2 linked regions of the Homo sapiens genome follow. The protein of the gene in region 1 interacts with the protein of each later gene in a pairwise test. Each region holds a gene or a part of one and is shown in the gene's direction. Other genes may lie near its edges.

What was found.
Region 2: the proteins of SUV39H2 (region 1) and APPL2 interact in binary tests that used the Homo sapiens proteins (3 or more experiments, as listed by UniProt).

The regions. Positions count from the first base shown.
Region 1 is NC_000010.11:14,881,021-14,891,250, forward strand, and holds part of SUV39H2 (histone-lysine N-methyltransferase SUV39H2), read left to right. Parts: intron 1-479; coding exon 480-625; intron 626-10,230. UniProt on the Homo sapiens protein: Histone methyltransferase that specifically trimethylates 'Lys-9' of histone H3 using monomethylated H3 'Lys-9' as substrate.
Region 2 is NC_000012.12:105,226,175-105,233,242, reverse strand, and holds part of APPL2 (DCC-interacting protein 13-beta), read left to right. Parts: exon of another isoform or gene 1-3,600; coding exon of another isoform or gene 3,601-3,615; intron 3,616-4,019; coding exon 4,020-4,118; intron 4,119-7,068. UniProt on the Homo sapiens protein: Multifunctional adapter protein that binds to various membrane receptors, nuclear factors and signaling proteins to regulate many processes, such as cell proliferation, immune response, endosomal trafficking and cell metabolism.

The DNA.
Region 1 (10,230 bases):
TCCAGTTAAAAAAAATGAAAGTTACGTGTTAACAAATTATAAGATTGTTTTAAAGTATATTTTAGATATGTTTTTAAGAATAAGTGTCCTAGAGATTTACATTTTATTAAAATAGTGATTGTAGTCTATGTAGAATACAATGAAAGTGAAAAACATTATCTCTGTTGACCTGCATCTGTATATAATCTTAAAAAAGCTTACAGACATGAAACATTTTCAAGTGACTTAATGGAAATTAACTGATGTCAGTTAAACGTAGTGGAATAGAAATCCATGAGAAAATCCAAGAACACCAATTTAACAAAATAGTTCCTTAATGTTTAACTTTTTCTTGAAGACATGTAACTGGTTTCTTGTCATAGGAATTTTTAGTCTAAAATTGCCAGTTGAAAGATGGGGAATAGAGGTTTTAAGTTTCTCTTTTTTGTTTTAATTGAATAGCTATTTCATTAGTAAAGAATTCTATTTTCTTATTGTAGCTTGGTGTGTGCCTTGCCTAGTTTCACTTGATACTCTTCAGGAATTATGTAGAAAAGAAAAGCTCACATGTAAATCGATTGGAATCACCAAAAGGAATCTAAACAATTATGAGGTGGAATACTTGTGTGACTACAAGGTAGTAAAGGTAAGGCAAATATCTAGCCCCTTACAAGAGACCTAATCAGACTTCAGTATTTCGTATTTCTGTAACATAAAAAGAACATTAAAAGAAAAGCTCTTCTTAATGTTTAAAATTCTAAGGCATGATAAATTTATATGTCCTATCATCTGTGTTGCCAAATAGCATTGAGAGGATTTTGAAGCATAAAGTGTTCTTGCATTAGAATATTTTCAGGTGCTCATATCCCTCTACATCCAACTCTTGATTATCTCCGTGTGGGTTACCAGAGCAAATGTTTGATCTCCAATTGTCTTTCGTTTTGTTCGTGGATCGTATTTCCCCACTATCACCTGAAATGAACCTACCGTTTCAAACCAATTTTAGTGTTACTGACTCTCAAGAACATCACCATTTGCATTTCCTGCCATCTTGTCACACTCCAGATTTAGTCAGGTTCTAGGTTATAATAGAATGGCCTGGATTGCAAAGTCATTTCCAGCTTTTGTTTAGTACCTTAGGACTTAAGCAAACTCGTTTCACTTCTCTAAGCCTTCCTTTATTGCTCTTAAAAAACGGCAGAGTTGTTCTCAAAAGATTTTTTGATCTAAACTGTATATTTTTGAGTAATTCATCTGTCTATAGCCTACCTCACTTTCCAAGAACTGTTTTGGTCATTAATCTACCAAATCTATCAGATAAGTGAATCGGGAATCTTGTTTAAGTCTTTATTTTCCTCCTTCATCTTCTATATTGAATCAGTCACTAAATCCCATTCTTTCAAGTTCTTTAGTATCACTGCCTTCCCTGCTCAGTGGGATCTTATGCCCATGCATCTCACCTGCACTCTCAGCATCCTTCGGCCCCTGAAACAGCCCCAGTCATCTGCCATCTCAGTTTACAAGCTATGGACTGACCAGTCCAGCTGAGAATATTATACAATCATGCATATCAGCCCCATTATAACTTATTTCTGTTCTCACACTGCTCAGTTCTACCTGACAAGCTTTTTATCTTGCTTGCTTTTCCCATTCTTGTCAGCAGGTTTTCCAACTTGGATTACTTTTCTGGGTTTCTTACTCTATCCATTTCTCATTTTCTGCTGAAGACCTCCTACCTCAATGAAAAATAGGATCTTTCATTTGTAAACTCTCAACTTACCTTCACCACCAGCTGTTCACACTTATTCTTACTTCCAGAGGTGTCACCATTTTTCTTTTTTCTTCCTATCTACCCCCTATAGGAGTTTTTTTTTTTTTTTTTAAAGGCCCAGAGTCTCGCTCTTGTCGCCCAGGCTGGAGTGCAGTCGTGCGATCTCAGCTCACTGCAACCTCCACCTCCTGGGTTCCAGCGATTCTCCTGTCTCCGCCTCCTGAGTAGCTGGGACCACAGGTGCCCGCCACCATGCCCAGCTAATTTTTGTATTTTTTAGTAGAGATGGGGTTTCACCATGTTGGCCAGGCTGGTCTCAAACTCCTGACCTCATGATCTGCCCGCCTTGGCCTCCCAAAGTGCTGGGATTACAGGCGTGAGCCACTGCACCCCGCCAGACTTTTTTTCTTCTCTGATGTCTTGTTTACATCAAGCTCTCTTTTTTTACTGATATATCTCAGTCAGTAAACACATTCAGATCTTCCCTAACCTTCAGAGATTTTCTTTGGCCTTGCCTCTCCCCTCATGCAAGTGTTTTCTGTCTTTTTCTACTACTGCATGTCCCATTAATTTTTTTAACAGCTTTGTTGAGATATAATTCACATGCTATCATACAGCTCACCTATTTAAAGTGTACAATTCAGATTTTGTAAACCGGGCACGGTGGCTCACGCCTGTAATCCTAGCACTTTGGGGGGCCAAGGCGGGCAGATCACTCGAGGTCAGGAGTTTGAGACCAGCCTGGCCAACATAGTGAAACCCCGTCTCTACTAAAAATACAAAAATTAGCCGGGCATGGTGGCGGGCCCCTGTAATCCCAGCTACTCAGGAGGCTGAGGCAGGAGAATTGCTTGAACTCCAGAGGTGGAGGTTGCAGTGAGTTGAGATCACCCCTCTGCACTCCAGCCTGGGCAACAGAGCGAGACTCAGTCTCAAAAAAAAAAAAAAAAAAAAAAAAAAAATCCCACAGATTTTCTAGTATACTTTAGGAGTCAGTTTTAGAACACTTTTCATTATCCCAAAAAGAAACAGTAAACCCCTTAGCTACCACCTGTTACCCCCAGACTTCCTCAGTTACCCTTCTACCTCCAGCCGTAGGGCAGCCACTACATCTGTCTGTCCATTTGCCTGGTTGGACATTTCATATAAAAGGAATCATACCATATGTGGTCCTTTGTGATTGGCCCCTTTCACTCAGCGTGTTTTCAGGGTTCATTCATGTTGTGAAATATATCAATACTTCATTCCTTCTTATTGCCAAATAATATTTCATTGTATGGATATATCACATTTAACTTATTCATCACTTCGTGGCCATTTGAGTTGTTTCCATTTTCGGACTATTATAAATAAGGCTGTTATGAACATTCGCCTACAGGGTTCTGTGTGGACATAAGTTTTCATGGTTCTTGGGTATATAACGAGGAGTGGAATTGCTGGGTCATATGGTGACTCTGTGTTTAACTGTTTGAGGAACTGCCAGACTCTTTTCCAAAGCACTGCATTTTACATTTCCACCAGCAGTGTATGAGTTTCAGTTCTTCACATCCTGGCCAAAACATGATGTTATCTGACTTTTTGATGATAGTTTTCCTAGTAGGTTTGAAGTGGCATCTCATTGTGGTTTTGATTTGTATTTTTCTGACTAATGATACTGAGCATCTCCTGTGCCTATTGGCCATTTGTATATCTTTGGAGAAATGTCTGTTCAGATCCTTTGCGCATTTTAAAAATTGGATTGTCTGTTTATTCTTGGAATCATACTTCATATAGTCTGGATACAAATCCCTTATTAGTATGTGATTTGCAAAAATTTTCTCCCATTCTGTGAGTTGTCTTTCCACTTCCCATTAGCTTTTTAACCCACCTTATTCTGACTTGTGCCCCTCAGTGACCTTTTAGTCGTCAGATTTGAAGACCTTGCATCTTATTCAACTTTTCCCCATTTAACACTGTTGGCTACCTTTTCCTCTTTGAAACTCTCGTCTATGGAGAAATTGTCTAGGTTTAACATTTGCCCCTTATTTATAAGTTGTGTGATCTTCAGCAAGTTACTTAGCCTTTCTGTCTTTCAGTTTCTTCATCTTTGAAACAAGGATCATTATTGTACTATTCTTACAGGGTGTTACTAGCATTAAATGAGTTAACATAGATAGAATGCGTGGAACAAAGGCCAGCGTGGTAATTATACTATGTGAGTGCTTACTGTGATTATTCTTACCTCTATTCCTACTTCTTTTCCACCTGTTTTTCTTACTATTCTTTATGAACCTCCTTTACTATCTCTTATCTCTCCTCTGAAATGTTGATAGTCTTCAAGGCCCTGTTCTTGGCCTTCTCACCTTGTAGTTGCTCTGTAGGCAGCCTCTTTCCCAGTGGTTTCTACTTGTATGTGTTTGGCTCATTCAATCTTTCTGAGGCCTTGAGCCCTTTCTGGGCTTCATTGCGAACTGGATACCCTACAGGTATCCAAGTTCACATTCAAAACTGCACCTATTTTCCTCCTTCATACCTGGATTTTGCACTAGTGTTCCCTATCTTGGTTAACAGAAACATAATTCTCCCACTTACCTAACCTCATGATTGCATATATCTTTAATTCTTCGTTTCTTTTTACTCTCTAAATCTAATGGGTTATCATATTATGTTATCTCTATCTCTCTGTCCTTTCCTGTTCATTCCTGCTGTGCTTTCACAGAGAGAATTAGTAATAGTTACTTACGGGTCTGTGCTTACATTAAGGGAGCTACCAAGATTCTTGTGTGGAATCCTGAGTGTTGTAGTTCAGTTTCAGATCATTTTTGCTGTTTAGTTTCTTCTTAGTCTTTCTCATCAGTTCATCCCTTTTCTTGCTTCGGAATAAGTGACCTTCCTTTGCTCTCTTATGTCCTCAGTACCCCACATACATCCCCCATTTCTTCTGTCTGGCACAGATATTGAATCTCTAAGCCAGCATTACTTTAGCATACCTCTGCCTTTTTTCTTCTCTTTCTCTTTCTTTTACAAATTCAGAGTAGGTGAAGGATCTTATGACCTTGTCCTTTTCTTGTGTGACCACCTTCACTTAGCTCATGAAAGATACTGTCTCAATACCATAGTCTACCGTGCCATTATAGTTGTTTCTTAAACCTAGCTCTGATTGCATTCAAGCCTTGCTTTAGACCTTTTCATGGTTCCCTATTTAACAGTCTCATCTGAGACATGTTAGCATAGGACCAAGGTTCTTTATCATCTGGCCACCCGCCACCTTTCCAGCCTCATCTCTTGTCATATATCCTATTTTCTGAAATTGAAATATTTATAGATCATTTCATTTAGCTAAGATGTACTGAGCACCTGTTATGAGCTAGGCACTGTTCTAAGCATTGGAAACATAGCTGAAGAACAGACCCAGCTTATATTCTAATGCCTTGAACATATCATGCACTTTTGTGTCCCCTTTCCTCATCCATTTCCCTCTTCAGAATACTACCATTTCTCTTCCCTGGACCGCAAAATCCTACACAGCCTGCACAGTTCAGTGCATAGGTCACCACCTATTGTAGAACCACCTGCCCTTCCTCACCTCCAGCAAAATTAGTTGATTTATGTTCAGGATTTACAAAGCACCATTCTTGCCATTACTCTAGAACTTGTCGCACTTTATGGTCTTGTTTATATCAGATCTTCCCTGCCAAATCATCCACCATTTGAGGGCCAGGACTATGTCTCATTTTAGTCCCGGTACAGAACGGGTGTTTGGTCCATGGTCATTGAATTGAATTGTCTTTTGCTTCGGTCATGTTTCTAGGGCCTACATTCACTATTAGACTAGGCCTTCCTGGCTTCATGCTTAGATGATAGCAGCATTCTGTTGACTCGTATCTCCTGTTTCTTTTTCTCGTATACTTACTCAACAAATATTTGAGTTTCTTCTGTGTGCCAGACACTGTGTTAGGCACTGGGAATAGAAAGATTAATAAGAAACTCCCTCACTATAAAGAACTCACAGCCTAGTGAGAAAGTTTGACAAAGAAATAACCCGTTGCAGTGTAGATGTATAAAAAGTGCTGTGGCAAACATCGTTAGAAGATCTGTGGGAGGTGCACCTTGGATAGGTCACAGAAAGCTTCCCAGAAGTGATGTCCAAGTGGAGCCTGAAAAGGCGAGCATTGTAATTGACTAGGGCTTCTGTCTGGAGAATGAGGTGGTCGGAGATGGATGTGGGAAAGAAAGAGGTGAGTGAAGGATTTTTCAGCCATCCTAAGGCAATGGGGAGTTAGTTGGCAGGTTCTAAAGAGAGTGACACATCAGGTTTGTAATTGAGAGAATTTTCTCTCTGCAAAAAAGAAAGGGGATTGATAGGGAAAGGAATAACACGTGCATGGCTGCATGTTCTGAATGGCTGTCATAGTAACCAGACCAGAAACAATGGTGCTTGGACTAAAGTATTAACGATGTCAAGGAAAAGTAGGTGCACGGTTCTTTTGTTTTTTAAAAAAAAATAAGGATGTAAAATGTATGTCTGTGGCTTGTGGTCACAGGGTTGGGTGGGGGTCTGGTAGTGAAGGTGCCAGGTCTAGGAAAATACAGGTTTCTGACTTGGGCAGTGGTGTAGACAGTATTACTGTTCACCAGGAATACAGGAGTAGGAACTAGATTGGGTTTGGGGACCCATTTCCAGTGGGTTTAAGTTCTACTTAAAACATACTCAACTTTCTTGAGTACTTTCAAAATGTACTTTCTTGAAGACATTTTAAGTGGAACTTAAACCAACTGGAAGTGGGGCTCAAATCAGTAGTGAGATCTAACTAGAAACATAGATCCTAAAGTAATTGGCAAAAAGATAGAGAGGGAAGCCTTGGGAGTGGATGCAGTTTCCTGTTCATGAACTCAGCCAATATTTACTGGCCATCTACCATGTCCTGCACTAGGAATTGGGAATCTGAGCAATGACTGATGTGAGGGTACGGTCCCTGATACTACAGAGTTTATCGTTCAGTGAGGGTAGAAATACCTTAAATACAGTTGGACAAAGTACTTATTGTAGTTGACGTAAGTGTTGATGTGACAGAAAGATCTCACTTATCCTGGAGAGACTGGGCAGGTATCCCTGAGGAACTGATGTTTCAACTTAGTACTAAAGGAAGAAAGGGATATGTGGGAGGGATTTCGAGGCAGAAGACAGCCTGACTTCAAGGAGTAGAAAGAGGGCCTTCAAGGAATAGAGGGTGTGAGTGGAACAGAGCAAGTAAGAGGGAGCATGTGAGGCTGGCGGGGTGGGCAGGCCCCAGAGTGTGCGGCTCCTCATAGGCCGAGGAAAGGATTTTGGACTTCCTCTTAAGGGCGTAGAGAACCATTTAGTAGTTTTAAGCAGGGGAGCAGCATGCTGAGATGTATGTGTTGAAAACATGACTCTGGCTGTTGTGCCCTGAATGGGTTGAGGGTGGCAAGAGGCGATTGCAGTAGCCCAAGCAAAGCAAATGTGAGCAGAAAACAAGGATTGAGGATGAGCCCTGAGGAGTAGGTGGGGACACTCATAGGAAGGACTGTCAGAGTCTGAGACACACTGGCAAGAGAGGTAGTCAGAAAATGGGAAGAGTTGGCCGGGCGCAGTGGCTCACACCTGTAATCCCAGCACTTTGGGAGGCCGAGGCGGGCAGATCATGAGGTCAGGAGATTGAGACCATCCTGGCCAACATGGTGAAACCCCGTCTCTACTAAAAATATAAAAATTAGCTTGGCATGGTGGTGCGCTTGCCTATAATCCCAGCTGCTTGGGAAGCTGAGGCACGAGAATCTCTTGAACCCAGGAGGCGGAGGTTGCAGTGAGCCGAGTTTGCACTACTGCACTCCAACCTGGTGACAGAGCGAGACTCGGTCTCAAAAAAAAAAAGAAAGAAAATGGGAAGAGTAAATCATGGGAACCAGAGAAAAGATGATGTCAGCAGGAGAGTATTAAACAGTAGGTCAGAGAACTGGAAAGAATCCACTGTATTTAGTAATGGAGGGTCACTGATGCCCTTAGAGCACCTCTGAGAAGAGCCAAAGGAATGAATTAAAGAATGAACCAGGCCGGGTGCAGTGGCTCACGCCTGTAATCCCAGCACTTTGGGAGGCTGAGGCAGGCGGATCACCTGAGGTCGGGAGTTCGAATCAGCCTGACCAACATGGAGAAACCCTGTCTCTACTAAAAATACAAAATTAGCCGGGCGTGGTGGCACATTCGTGTCATCCCAGCTACTTGAGAGGCTGAGGCAGGAGAATAGCTTGAATCCAGGAGGCAGAGGTTGCAGTGAGCTGAGATCGTGCCATTGCACTCCAGCCTGGGCTACAAGAGTGAAACTCTGTCTCAAAAAAAAAAAAAAAATTAACCGGAGGTAAGAAAGTAGAGTCAAGTAGTATGGACAATTCTTCCATGAATCCTAGCTTTCAAGAAAACGAGAGGGCTACATGGGTATAAGGGTGTTTATAATTTTTTTCAAGTTTTTTTGAAAAGACCATTGTGATAGTAATTTTTTTTTAATTTTGAGGAGGTATTATGCATGTAGTTTTAGAAAATGAATGTTATAAAAGGTCAGATACTGACATCTACCCCATGACCTAGTTTCAGTCTCTGTCTTAGCAACTTAATATGTCTTTTAGAGATTCCCTACATATACAAAAGTTTATATCTCAGAGGAGGTTTAGTTTTATTTTGCTTTTTAAAAATGGAGCCTGTTTAAATGCTAGTGAGAACCAGCAGAGGGAGATACTGAAGAGACAAGAAGAATTGACCGAGGAAGTGCGTCTCTCTTTTCATGTCTGCATCCACCTTATCTCTAGCTCCATGGCCATGGAAGGCTGGCAGTTAAGGCAGTTAATGCCTGGTGGTTTCCATTTTCTCTTTGCATTAGTAACAAAGGTCATACATCACTGAAAATAACACAGGAGGTAGGGGTGGGAACCTTGAGCAAAGTGGAGGAGGTCTAAAATAGCCAACTTGAGAAATGGAAAAAATTCTGTGGGGGCAGGAAAAAGGGTTGTTACTATTATGAATTCATGTGAAGGGTCAAGTTGAACTTAAAGGGTGTTAATTGTAGTAGTATTGAGTCTCAATGCAAGGTGATTTTTCTGCAGCATTATTGTTGCTACATCACCCCTTCATACAGAATAATTTCTGACAAAACTATGGGTATTTAAGATAGTTCAGTTAAGAACAAGATCCTCTGTACACATTGATGGACATGCACATAGCTTAGTAAGCTGAGCAACAAATATTGCCTATAGCTTTGGTTTCTTAAAGTATACAGGTACTTTTGTGTTTCGAGAACCACCTCTATATGGCGTGGCACAAATTAATGATAGTCCACATCTGACAATATAGTGATATTCCTGAAACACTGATTGAACCTAGAGTGGTTAAGAACTAGAATAACAGAAATCATTATACTACAACCTGTATTTGAGAGATCAGGAAATTACAGCTCTAAGAAAATACTTTAACAATCAATGTCATGTGGCTCACTTTTTTCAATTCTGGGTGTCTAACCCAGCTATCACAATTCCTACTCTTACTGGCATGAAAATTCAGTGATTTTTCCATTGACTATAATAGTTCTCAGACTATGCTCCCATGGAACCACTGGTGTTTTCATAATCAAATTCCAGTTATTTATTTAGAGACAGGGTCTCACTCTGTTGCCCAAGCTGGAGTGCAGTAGCCTGATCTTGGCTCACTGCAGCCTTGACATCCCAGGCTCAAACGATCCTCGCATCTCCGCCTCTTGAGTAGCTAAGACCACAGGCATGTGCCACCACATGCTGCTAATTTGTAGAGACAAGGTCTCACTATATTGTCCAGGCTGGTCTCCAACTCCTGGGCTCAAGCAATCCTCCTGCCTCAGCCTCCCAAAGTGAGCCACTGTGCCCAGCCAGATGCAGGTTATTTTAACACTGATATTGAATATGATGATTATTTCAAAATTGGCAGAAAAAATTACCTAGTGGAAAGACAAAATTTTTTTGTACTTTGTCTTCTCATATGTTTCTTTTAAAGTTTTGGTGTTTGCTGCCACTTGTTGGCTATAGACAGCAGGTGACAAATATTGAGAAACCGTGAATTGCTACCTCCAAGTTTATCAGCTTGTATTTCCTTTAAGAACTCATACAGTTATTGTTGTGATTTGTATATTACATACCTTTTGGTACTCCTATTTTTTTGTTATACATTCAGAAACATTTAGTCACAGCCTAAGATATGGTGGGCAGTTGTGCTCATTTGGGGGCTATAAAAAATAAGATTCCATCCCTTCCCGCAAATAACTTAGAGTTTAAATTGGAAATTGGAACAAAAAGGAGTTGATGGTGATCAGTTCTTCTTGGGTATGAGAGACAGGAAAGACTTCATAGAAGAGGTGATATTTACACCGTTTTAAAAGATGAGATGAGCATTCATTGGACCAGTGGGAAAGGCCCTCCTAATTAGGGAGAACTTTGTGAACAAAGCAGCAGGGGCATCA
Region 2 (7,068 bases), on another chromosome or scaffold:
AGTGACTACCCTTGACTGGTTCACAGTTTGTTCCAGAGACAGATAATGAGGCAACAGTTCCAGTACAGTGTGAATCCTGCTGCGATAGGAACACAAATGCAGCTTTGAGCTCCTGCAGCTTGTACTTCTTCAGGGGCTTATTCTCTTGTCCTGTAAGTAGTACACTTTTGAGGTAAGGTGAAGACAACAGCACTGTTGCTTGCTCGGTTTGTGTTTTGTTTGTTTCTTTTGCGATTGGCATAACGGAACAAAGAAATAAAAGATGTAGTTCTGAGGTTATGCAGTTGAGTGGCCCGGCTGGGAGCAGCCCTCTCCAACCAAATCAGGCCTTTCTTTCCTCAAACAAGATAATCTCAAAACATAACCTGGTGGTTTTATATGTCTTCACTGTGGAGATGTTTTGTGCTGTTCCTCTTTTTGTTTATAACCTATTTTTCCTTTCAATAGACTTGGTTCTTTTTTTTTTTTTTTTTTTTTTTGAGACAGGGTCTCGCTTTGTTGCCCAGACTGGGGTGCAGTGGCATGAACACGGCTCACTGCAGCCTCAGCCTCCTGGGCTCAAGCGATCCTCCCACCTCAGCCTTCTGAGTAGCTAGGACTACAGGCATGCATCACCACGCATGGCTAATTTTTTAATTTTTGTAGAGACAGAGTCTTGCTGTGTTGCCCAGGGTGGTCTTGAACTCCTGGGCTCAACCAATCTTCCTGTCTTGGCCTCCCAAAGTCTTGGTTCTTTTCACTAGGACATTCTCTTCCTCCACCAAATTATGGAGATAAGAACTTTGTTTATAACCTTAAAATTTTCTCAGTAGTCAGTGGTGTTAACATTGGGCCACTACACAATTACACACACTATTCTTGAGAATGTCTAGGAGTGTTTTATTAGGTAATACCCAGTTTCTTTAAGGTAAAGGAGTGATAGGGAGCTGAGGCTGTGTGCATAGGGTGCTTGGATTTGTTTCTCTGGCCGAGCATACCCTTAAAAGTGTCGGGCAGTAGAAAATGGATGGAATTCCACTCCTGAATCTGCTACTGTTACTTTTGGCAAGTTACTCAATCTCTCTGAGGTTGTGTTTGGAGGTATGTAAAATAAAAATAAAAATAGCTATTTAGTTGAGTTGTTAGGAAGAACAAGTAACATATGTAAAGTGTCTCCATGCTGGCATGCCATAGTAACCCCATAAATGATTGCTGTTGTTATCTTTGTAAGTGAGATATACCAGTGTCTTTCTGACCGTGTCTTTCTGACCGTGGGATTTTGAGCTACTGGTGTGCCTTTGCTTTATTCTTGGTCTCATTCCTTCTTTATGTCTCAGAATATCTCTGTTGTTCCAAACCAAAGTTTGAGCAGACACAGTATAGTAAATGAGGATAGCCAGTGTCCAAGGTAGCTGGTTATATTTTTTCCAGAGGTGATCACTGCCAAGTTAAATTAAAAAGGGAAGACCAGAGTTTCCCTGTCAGTTCTAATGGGCATCACAGTTGCATTTCCACGATATAAGGAAAAAGGACACTTGTGATGTAGTTCTCTGGCAGGTATTGTGGGCGGGAACATGGTAGTAGCATCCAGCTCCAGTCTGCCCCTGTCCTGCCTCCAGTCAGGGCTGTACGCTGTGGACCAAAGATCATGCTCGCTGATGAGAGCCACCCTGCTGGTGACCTCAGTGCTGCCGACCCATTTACATCCCAGCCCTGCCACATTCCTACAGTGGGAGGTTGAACACATTTCTTAACCTTGATGAGCCTCAGTTTCATCATCAGTAAAATGAAGTTAATGGAACCATGGAATCTACCTTGGAGAGTTGCTAGAAGAATTAAATGAAGTCACATATGTTTAGTGCCCAGCACAGCGTCCAGCACATAGGTGGTACAGAGTAAGTGGTAATTTTAGTTTTCTTTCTACCCTCTTTGTGGAGGACATTCATGCAAACCCTCTCTTTCCCTTTTTACCTCTTTTCTTCCAGTCTGTTTTTATCCCTTAGAGTATTAAATGCAATAAACAGGATTTGGCTAAATGGACATAGTAGTATTTTTGAAAAAACTAGCCACAATCCAGTTATATCACTTCTCATTCTCCTGAATCAGTGTGTTTAACCTACTGGTTGACATCCATTAGTAGATTATGAAATCCAGTGGGTCACAACCACAATTTTTGTTTATAAATGGAATAGACTAAAATAGGAAAAAGCCACAATGTGTATGCATATTATCGATAAATATTGTTTGGGAAAACCTTTGTTCAGGTCCTGATGTATTTCATACTGTGATTATGAATTTTTGAAAGTTCAGAGAGCTCTTCTAACACAAATTATACACTGTACAAATTCTGTGTTGTTTTTCTTTCACTGAGAGCTTTTTTAAACATGATGTTACAATTTCCTTATTCATTATTGCACAGTGGCTCTTCTATGGATAAGCATTGGTACTGAAGACAGTACATTAGTCCTGGTGTTTTTAGCCCGGAAGACTGGGCAAAGCGGGATAAGCATGCATTGCTGTGAAGCGCATCAGAGTTTTGGAGCAGAGTCTGGGTAGAGCATGTGTGGTGGGAGGTAATGATCCCAATGCATAGGTTCTTATTCTAGTTTTTTGAGGGTGCTTTGGGGTCAGTTACTGTTCCTTTACCTGAAATAAGTTAGAAAAAGAAAAGGAGGAATTGCAATTTATTTGCAGGGAAATAATGAGCCTTAGTGAGTTGTATTTGGTAAAGTGCTTTGATATCACCTCAAAGGCATTCCTGAAATTATTCTTCATTCTATGCCTAATGGGTTATATTTTGAAGTTGTGATCCAATTATTGCTAACATAGTACTTTAAATTCCCACTGTGCTGGGCACATTAACGAAAATCCCTTGAGTAGATCTGCCTCTGTGCACCTTAATTCTTGTTCGTACACCATCCAGTATGTAAATATTTCTCTAGTGCTTTTTGTGTTCTGAGCACCGTGGATGAAAATGATAGGAAATGCCTTTCAGCTTATGACTTTGCTCAGCTGCTCTCTGAGCACTGAGGAGTTTGTCTTCCTAAAAACGGTAAACTAGCATTCTTATTAAGTTGCTATTTGAGTTTTATGTCCAGAGCTGCTGCTGGTGGGCCCAGGGGTTGTGAAATTTCTTGGCCGTGAGTTTGAAAATGGTTGAATAAAATATAATTAAAAACAAGCAGGCCAGGTGCGGTGGCTCACACCTGTAATCCTAGCATTTTGGGAGGCCATGGTGGGTGGATCACCTGAGGTCAAGAGTTTGAGACCAGCCTAGCCAACATGGTGAAACCCTGTCTCTACTAAAAATACAAAAAATTAGCCAGGTGTGGTGGTGGGTGCCTGTAATCCCAGCTACTCAGGAGGCTGAGGCAAGAGAATCCCTTGAGCCCGGGAAGCAGAGGTTGCAGTGAGCCGAGATCGCACCATTGCACTCCAGCCTGGGCAACAAGAGCGAAACTCCATCTCAAAAAAAGAAAGAAAGAAAGAAAAAGAAACAAGGAAATCGTAGTACCATAAGAGGAAAGAATGACACACTCCTACACTCCTGCAAGACATCCAAGATTACAAAAAACCAGACTGCTGGTTCCTGCTGGGATGATCACACTACAGCTGTGCTAGATGACCACACCCCAGGTACACAGATAGGCCTGACCTGTGTTTATCTTATGGACTTGAGAGGAGAGGCTGCCCTTTTAAACACTTTTTTTATTGGATAGACTTTACTGGTGCTTAGGTAGGGGCTAAAGTCAGAACAGATAATAGCCCTTCAGTCATAATCTTTTAAAAACTGGCTTTTCTGGCTCCAATTCTGAAATTGCCCTGACACTGTAGTCTAAAGGATTAGAAAGCGAGCTCTAAACCAGAGCTCCAGGAATCAAATGGTACTGGTACTATCAATAAAAGAAGCCAGGGAACCAACAGGTACCTTTCTTTCCTCGCATTCTGGTTTCTGCATGTGCGGGTGTGTGGATCTTCCTCCTCCTCTGTAACTTTTCCACTTAGAAATGAAATTGACCTTTTTTCTTCTTTTCTTCCAGACTCGCTCTTTACTGAGCGTGTTTGAAGAAGATGCTGGCACCCTCACAGACTATACCAACCAGCTGCTCCAGGCAATGCAGCGCGTCTATGGAGCCCAGGTATGCTGCCACCCCTCACCTGGATACCGCAGAGTGGGCATTCTCTCCCCTCATCCTGAACTTCCCTCAGAGGTTGAGAAATTGGAATCCGAAAAACATCATTTAAGATTTTGAAACAAAATCAGAACTGTTTTCTCACTACTTTTCACCTCAAAAACCTAAGGACAGTCTGTTCTCATTGCTTAAGAGTGATTTGTCTTTAATTAGAACCATTAGAGATGGGCCACATAACTGCTCCTAATTTTTTTTTTTAAATTCAACCCAGTGGGAAACATTTGAGTCTCCTCTTCCTACTTGTGAATAAGTGGGTCCAGTATTTTGACACATACTCTTTGTCTTTTTCATAAATGGGCAGAGTCTTAGATGTCAGTGTGGGAGGGCAGAGATGTTTTTTCAACTGCTTCCTCTGAAAAGACTTGAGTCACAGTTCTGAAACTATCGGGTGGCTTCTTTGTTTGTGGAACAAATATCTCTGGCTTGCAAAAGCATGCAAAAGAAATTGCTGAGTAGCAAAAGTGAATCTTTTTAATGTCAAGAAGTGCCCATGTATGTTGCTTTCTAAGAGAAGATTTATGAGTTACTTAAAAATAAAATGCTTTATGTTACAAAGCATTGAACACATCACAATATTATGGTAACTGATCATTTTCATTGTTGATTCCTTGCTGACTTAAATCTTATGTGTTGATATTTTTCTCATTAATAATCTCTTAAGGAATATAGATTGGGCATCCCAAATTTGAAAATCCAAAATCCGAAATGCTCCAAAATCTGTAACTTTTTGAGTGCTGACACGACACATAAACGAAATGCTCATTGGAGCATTTTGGAGTTTTGGATTTGGGAAGCTCGACTGATACAGCAAATACTTCAAAATCTGAAAAAATCCTAAATCCTTCTGGTCCCAAGCATTTCAGATGCAGGGTACTTAACCTATACCACATTCAGTAGTATATAGCTCTTACTAATATATATAGTCATTTCTTATTACATAGGTTCACCACTCTATTACTGCTCATTGTTTTATTAGTCATTTCCCATCATATGGGAATAAGACTCAGTCCTTGCCGTTGGGGAGCTGACAGTTGGGTTGGGAGGCAGACAAAGCAATCACCAGAGAGCCTTAGAGGGGCCAGGAGAGGAGAGCCACCTAACCTAGTGGGGTTGTGCTGGGCACGCAAAAGGAGGGTGATTGTAAGAGTTGAGATTTATTGAATACTTAATAGCATCCAGGAACTTCCAGGGGCTTTTATGTTGATTATTTTATTTAAATTCCCCTAACAACTCTGAGGTGGGTATTGTTATTGTTATTATGCCTATGGTATTGGTTGGGAGACTTAAGGATTCTGATGGTGAGAAACTTGTCCAGGTGCACCCATTTAATTCATGGCAGAGCAAATCAGCTGGAGCCAAGCTGAGACTCTTCACTCCTAAGCATAGGGGAGGTGGCAGTAGAAGTGGAAAGAAGCAGCTGTACTTGAGAGGTATTTAGGAGGTGGATTGGTGATTGATTGGGTATGAAGGGGTCAGGTGGTAAAGGATGAATCAAGAATGATGTTCAGGTATTCATCTGGAACGGCAGGGTGGATACATGGGAGAACACAGGAAGAGGCGCAGGGTGCGTATGAGTGTGTGTGCGTGCCTGTGAGTGCATATCTGTCATGGGGATGCCCAACTGTAATTCTCTCTGGAAACACTGATTTTGAGGAGTTCATGGGACATCAAAGTGGATAAAGAGATCTTGTTGAAAGTTCAGATCCAGAGTACAGGGCTGGAGATATAGATAGGCAAACTATGCAGTAAGGTATAAGTGTAACTTATTAATTAGAACTAGCTTTGGGCTGGCCTGTAATCCCAGCACTTGGGAGACCAAGACGGGAGGATTGCTTGAGGCCAGGAGTTTGAGACCAGCCTAGTCAATATAGTGAGGACCTGTATCTACACAAAATTTTTGTAAATATTAAAAAAAGGACTAGAGTCTTTTTTTTTTATTTTTAATTTTCAGAGACAGGGTCTTACTCTGTCACCCAGGATGGAGTACAGTGGCATGATTATACCTCACTGTAGCCTCTAACTCCACGGCTCAAGTAATCCTCCTGCCTCAGCCTCCTAAGTAGCTAGGACTACAGGTGCACACCACCACACCCAGCTAATTTTTTTTCTTTTTGATTTTTGGTAGAGATAAGGTCCTACTATGTTGCCCAGGCTGGTCTGAAACTCCTGGCCTCAAGTGATCTGTCTTAGCCTTCTGAGTAGCTAGAACTAGTTTTAATGACCAAAAGAATTATGTGTTCACCTGTGATTTTATGTGTTTTGTTAAGACATTCAGAATTTAGAGAAATGAGAACTTCGTCAATTTTTGTTTTTGTATTTTTCCCTAAATATTCTAGATTTAAGAAAACAGGAATGTTCTTACTGGGCTTATACCTGAAATTGCTTGCTATTCAGCAATTTGTATTTCGTCACTAAGTGATTTGTCTCTTATTTAAGGCTTAAAAACCCAAGACGTGAGAGACTGTGTCTCTGTCACTCTGAGGAGTCTCTGTTCTGCCTTTCGGTGTCTGTCAGAATCATCTACTTGGGGTTATCCAAACGCTGTCTCATGCATTTTTTTCTGTTGAGGCAGAAAACGACATTTTGCCAAAATTAAGTGGGTCTTTCCTTCCTAGAGGCTGTAACCCAGCTTTTAATGCGCAGCATATGATCATCACGTGGGTTCTCCTGCTGGCCAGAAACCCTTCCTCCTGCCTCAGCGTTTCCTGCAGCACAGGCTGGTGAGAATGTCTGGTTAGTGCTGCCAGATTCAAAGACAGAGTCAAGCAGTGATCAGCTGTGTTCAGATTGGCTGGGCCAAGGACACTTGGTTTTTCAGGTTTCTTTGAAAGCTTAGGTGTTTCGTTTTGTTTTTAATTGAAGAAAGAAATCTTTTCTGATTCCTGTTTTGATCTGT